2 separate regions of the Homo sapiens genome follow, and region 1 is linked to region 2. Evidence: fine-mapped expression QTL. Tissue or cell type: testis. Region 2 holds a variant in brackets; the other region holds the start of a gene. All regions are shown on one strand. Distances are from middle to middle.

Region 1 (2,750 bases), 29 kb before region 2:
GCAGGAAGGGGCTGAGGCTGGTTTTGGACTCTGCACCGTAGCCTCTGGCCTACAAGACAGAGCATCCTCTAGATTCTGGTCTGGCCCCTCCAGATCCGCAGCCCTGACCTTACCCCACTGGCGGGATCTAGTCCCCTGGGGGTCTCTCTGATTATAGGAGCCCTTCCCCCATCTATCCCAGTTCCCAGGGGCCCCTGGGGCTCACCTGTCTCCAGGTGCTGAGAAAAAGGAGACCCCTGCCTCCCCCCACATTGAAGAGAAGCCCCAGGGACAAAGAGGAGTTTGCACCAGCGACGTCTCAGAAGACAGGGGATCCAGCCTCAGCCTCCGTGGGCTGGAGGGTGACAGGGGCTCTTAGTGGTCACCCCCAGGCTCCAGTGCCTCCAGCGGCCGCACTGTAAAAAGGCCCTGCAATTAGAAGGGGCCTTTGGCAACCCCGAGGCCGGGCAGCCCATTGTACAGTTGGGGAAACGGAGGCCCAGGTGCCCACACATGGGCAGAGGCTGACCCCTGGGGCGCACGGAGGCCCTGACCTAGCCTTAGGACCTCCCTTTTCCCCCACTTCCTCCACAAAGAGGTTGTGGGAAGGGGGCTGTGACTCCGTAGGTGTGAGTGGGAGTCGGGGGAAGCTGAGCTTGCAGTGGGGATCTAGCTCCTGGGGGTCTGTAGGGAACGGGGGGGGGGGGGGACACGTACATTACAGGCGACCGTCCAGCCACACTCCCAGAAACTCCCTGGAGATGGACTTGGGGGTGCCAGGCAGAAAGCCACATCTGGGACTCTGGAGAGAATCACACAGAGACGCGAAATCGGAGACTCTGGGTCGAGGCCCCCAGCCCCACCTGGGCAGAGTCTGTCCTCGGACCCCCGCCCGCTGTCCCCCGGGTACGGCCTGCCCCAGCGGGCGCGGGCGGGCGCAGTGGCCAGGGACGCCGAAGCCCCAAGTCTGGCCGACTTCGGCCTGCTTGGTGCTCGAGTGGGGCCGGGGCGGGCGGAGAGCGAGGCTGCGGGAGGCAGCGGTGGCAGGAGCGGGTGGGCGGGGGCGCTGACGTCAGACCCGGGCCCGGGCGCCGGCGGCCGCTCCCCTGCCACATCCTGGTGGCCGCGCTCGCAGCCGGGCCGGGCCGTGCGCCGCGCAGCCTGGCAGCCTCGCGCGCAGCCACCGGGGAGCGGGCGGGAGTCATGCAGCGGCCTTGAGCACTAGGGGCCGGCGCTGAGGAGCGCGCGCGGCGGGAGGGCAGCCGAGCATGGAGCTGAGCCTGGAGAGCCTGGGGGGCCTGCACAGCGTGGCCCACGCGCAGGCGGGCGAGCTGCTGAGCCCGGGCCACGCGCGCTCGGCGGCGGCGCAGCACCGCGGCCTGGTGGCGCCCGGGCGCCCGGGCCTGGTGGCCGGCATGGCGAGCCTGCTGGACGGCGGCGGCGGCGGCGGCGGTGGGGGCGCCGGGGGCGCGGGCGGCGCGGGCAGCGCGGGCGGCGGCGCGGACTTCCGCGGGGAACTGGCGGGCCCGCTGCACCCGGCAATGGGCATGGCCTGCGAGGCGCCGGGCCTGGGCGGCACCTACACGACGCTCACGCCCCTGCAGCACCTGCCGCCGCTCGCGGCCGTGGCCGACAAGTTCCACCAGCACGCGGCGGCCGCGGCCGTGGCCGGGGCGCACGGCGGCCATCCCCACGCGCACCCGCACCCGGCGGCCGCGCCGCCCCCGCCACCCCCGCCGCAGCGTCTGGCGGCCAGCGTGAGCGGCAGCTTCACCCTCATGCGCGACGAGCGGGCGGCGCTCGCCTCCGTGGGCCACCTCTACGGACCCTACGGCAAGGAGCTGCCCGCCATGGGGTCGCCGCTGTCGCCGCTGCCCAACGCGCTGCCGCCCGCGCTGCACGGCGCCCCGCAGCCCCCGCCGCCGCCACCACCCCCGCCGCTGGCCGCCTACGGCCCGCCAGGCCACCTGGCTGGGGACAAGCTGCTGCCGCCCGCCGCCTTCGAGCCGCACGCCGCGCTGCTGGGACGCGCGGAGGACGCACTGGCCCGCGGGCTGCCCGGAGGCGGCGGCGGCACAGGCAGCGGCGGAGCGGGCAGCGGGAGCGCCGCGGGGCTGCTGGCGCCGCTGGGCGGGCTGGCGGCGGCCGGGGCGCACGGGCCGCACGGGGGAGGCGGCGGCCCCGGCGGGAGCGGCGGCGGCCCCAGCGCGGGCGCAGCGGCCGAGGAGATCAACACCAAGGAGGTGGCGCAGCGCATCACGGCGGAGCTGAAGCGCTACAGCATCCCGCAGGCAATCTTCGCGCAGCGGATCCTGTGTCGCTCTCAGGGCACGCTCTCCGACCTGCTGCGCAACCCCAAGCCGTGGAGCAAGCTCAAATCCGGCCGCGAGACCTTCCGCAGGATGTGGAAGTGGCTGCAGGAGCCAGAGTTCCAGCGCATGTCGGCGCTGCGCTTGGCAGGTAGGAGCGTGGCGCGCAGGGCCAGACCCTGGGGGCGCCGGCTCTGGACTCCCGAGCACCTAGCGGGGCGGCGGCCGATGCCCGGGGCCAGCGCCCCAAGCCCCGCCCGTGCGCCCCGGCAGCCCGGGACCCCCTATCAGGAAGCTAGACCGCGATCCGCGCCGCTGCCCGTTTGTACCGTTGCCAAAAGGGAGAAAGGGATTGTGCCGCCTCCCCGCCCCCCGGTCGCCGCTTCTGCCCCTTTCGGGAGCGCGTAGGGGTTCTCTAGTCCTTGTTAGACTGCTGGGAGGCTCCGAGCCTCTCCCCAAGCA
Region 2 (2,750 bases):
GTCAGGACCTGCTTCTGTGACATCACTGCTCATTGCTTTCTGGAGTCTAAAGTGAACGGAGGCCCCAGTGAATGAAGGTGTATTTGAATGGGAGAAACCAGGGCTTCCCGATAGAGGAAGAAGCTAGATGGTACAAGAACTGGAATTTATAAACTTTCTTGGGAGGGGCCAGCTGTCAGGCAGCGGGGGAGCCACAGCTTTTAATAAGCAACTTTTGAGAGCAATGAAGCTTTACCCACATTATCTTACCCCAGCATGAAGAAGGAAAGTTTTCCCTGCAAATACCCGGCTGGACCACTAGAGGTCAGTGTTTTGATTTTAAAAACCGGGAAGGAATATTCCATCACAAAAAAAGTGTAGGGAAAGAGGGAGCCTGAATTAGCGCTGGGGTCAGATGGACCCTGGTTTATTAGAAAAAGAAAAGCATGTGGAGTCCTTGTCTTTAGAGGAAGGCCCCCTGCATGCTGGTTGACTTGCAGCAGAACTGGCTGGAGCTTCTTCTTCCCAGGAAGGACATCTTCCTGATATGCCAGCGTGACTCCTTTGGGCTCGAAGATGCCTCTTCATCAGATGGGTCTAGGGATTCAGATGCTACGTCACTGCTGAACCCTGGTCCCCTCCGCAGAGGGCAATGACTGCTCCTCTGGGGGCAAGGATAGCTGCTCCTCCCCGGGCACCAGCAGCCACTCCATGGATGATGATGACTGCTTCTCCGCGGGCCACAGCTCCACCTCCATAGGCTGCTCGCTCGTGGACGTGGACGATTCTTCCAGACTTGGTGGCAGAGTCTCCACCTGAGATTTGTGGGTCTTGTCTGGAAGTGGCACCGTCCCCTCCTTGGGGGTGTGAGGCTCCTTTTGCCAGCTCTTCCGGAACGGTGTGGAGGGCTTCAAAAATGCTGACTTCTCCTCCGAGGAGTCTGGCTGGCTCTCCAACGTCAGCTGGCCTGAAAGAAATGACTGGCTCCCCAGAGGCTGTGGCTGGCTCTCAAATGACGACAGCTGGCTTTCTCTGTGCAACAGTGATTTCTCCTGAAAAGAATGTGACCTCTCCTTGGTCAACAGCAACTTCTCAGGAGAAGGTGGCCTCTGCTTGGGTGACA[A/G]TGACCTCTCCTGTGCCCTTGGCAATTGCTCTTGGAAAGACTCAGATAGCCTGTTGCTGCTGGTGAGCACATATTTGGGGAGGGCAGGTTGGTTTTCTGGATGAAGAGCGGATTGTCTATCCATAGAAAATGATGAGCTAGGTGTAGGGGGGAGCTGTACTTCCTGGGAGGACACCTGCCCCTGTGGCTGGTGCTTCTTCTTCCCCAGGAAGGACATCTTCCTGAGGTGTCACTGTGACTCTTTTGGGCTCGAAGCTGCCTCTTCATCAGATGGGTCTAGGGATTCAGATGCTATGTCACTGCTGACCCCTGGTCCCCTCCGCAGAATTGTGCCCTGAGTGATGAGGTTTGCATATCCCTCACGGTGGGAGAAAGCATAGCTGGAACGGCGGGCACGAGACTCCCGGTGTACATGAGGCAAGGGCTCCATGGTGAAAATCTCCTCGCTGGGGCCCTCCTCCACCTTCTCCTCCTGAAGAGCAAAGGGGAGAGCAGGGGAAGCAGACTCCTATGCTTGGCTGATGGCTCTCAGGTCCCCCAAGTAGGAGAGGCAGGATTCAAAGCCCTTGGCCACTATTGATTGGCTACGTTCTTCCCTACCCAAGTTGAGCCAATTAGAGTCCTCGACTCTCAGTGTTGAGTTCTAAGGAGGACTCTAGTCCTTTGCTTTTCAAGACCCACTAATTGGCCTTGCCCTGGAAACTAACCCTGGATCAGCCAATCAGAGTTATTCCCTGGGACTTAACTCGGGACCACCCAATCAGAGTCCTTCCCTGGGACTTAACCCTGGCTCAGCCAATCAGAGTCCTTCCCCGACTCTGGACCAGCCACCAGGTGCCTTGGCTGCCCTTTGGTGGCAAATCCAGGAGAGGTGAGCCTGGGACAGCCAGGTGCCCAGCCTGTGCAGTAAAGGTGGCAGGAGCTGGGCAGGGAGAACAGAGGTGGCAGGGCAGGTACACCATTCCAGTCAATTCTGGGGCCCATCTCAGCTGCAACTTGCTTTTCCATGCATGCTTTGGTTACGTGGGCTAGTAAGTCCCCTCCCTTTTTTTTGAGGTGGGGTCTTGCTCTGTTGCCCAGATAGGAGTGCAGTGGCAAAAATCATAGCTCACTGCAGCCTCAACCTCCCAGGCTCAAGCAAGCCACCTGCTTCAGCCTCTCAAAGTGCTGGGATTACAGGTGTGAACCGCTGCGCCTGGCCTTGAGCACATGTCCTCAAGGTGCATCCACGCTGTGGCCTGTGTCAGAGCCTCACTCCTTCTCACGGCTCAGGCGTGTTTCATTGCACAGATGGAGCGTGCCGTGTTGACCCACTCATCTGTCAACAGACTCTTATTTCTAAGTTCCTCCTTTTGCCTAAACCATTTCAAGGTTGTTTCCGTCATCTCAACCCCCAAGCTCTAGATCATTCACGGTAGAATCTGATGGTGTCAGCCAGGCACAGTGTGGCTCATGCCTGAAATCCCAACATGTTATGAGGCCAAGGCAGGAGGATTGCGTGAGCCCAGGAGTTTGAACCAGCCTGGGCACCATAATGAGTCTCCATCTCTAGAAAATAACTACAAAATTAGCTGGGCGTGGTGGTACATGCCCGTGGTCTCAGCTACTTGGAAAGCTGAGGTGGGAGGATCCTTTGAGCCCGGAAGGT

Evidence for each region. PIP is the estimated chance that this variant, and not a neighbour inherited with it, causes the effect.
Region 1: ONECUT3 starts here. The variant in region 2 is fine-mapped to the expression of ONECUT3 in testis (GTEx, PIP above 0.99).

What each region holds. Positions count from the first base shown.
Region 1 is chr19:1,752,416-1,755,165 of GRCh38, forward strand. ONECUT3 (one cut homeobox 3) reads left to right here and starts at 1,091. Exons shown (of 2, transcript NM_001080488.2): 1 at 1,091-2,439. The coding sequence starts at 1,248.
Region 2 is chr19:1,781,697-1,784,446 of GRCh38, forward strand. It overlaps ATP8B3 (ATPase phospholipid transporting 8B3), which reads right to left. Exons shown (of 29, transcript NM_138813.4): 29 at 379-1,574. The coding sequence ends at 1,332. Among named protein-coding and RNA genes, the nearest start is that of ATP8B3, 29 kb to the right of the region's middle. The variant A/G (reference allele first, on the strand shown) is at 1,103.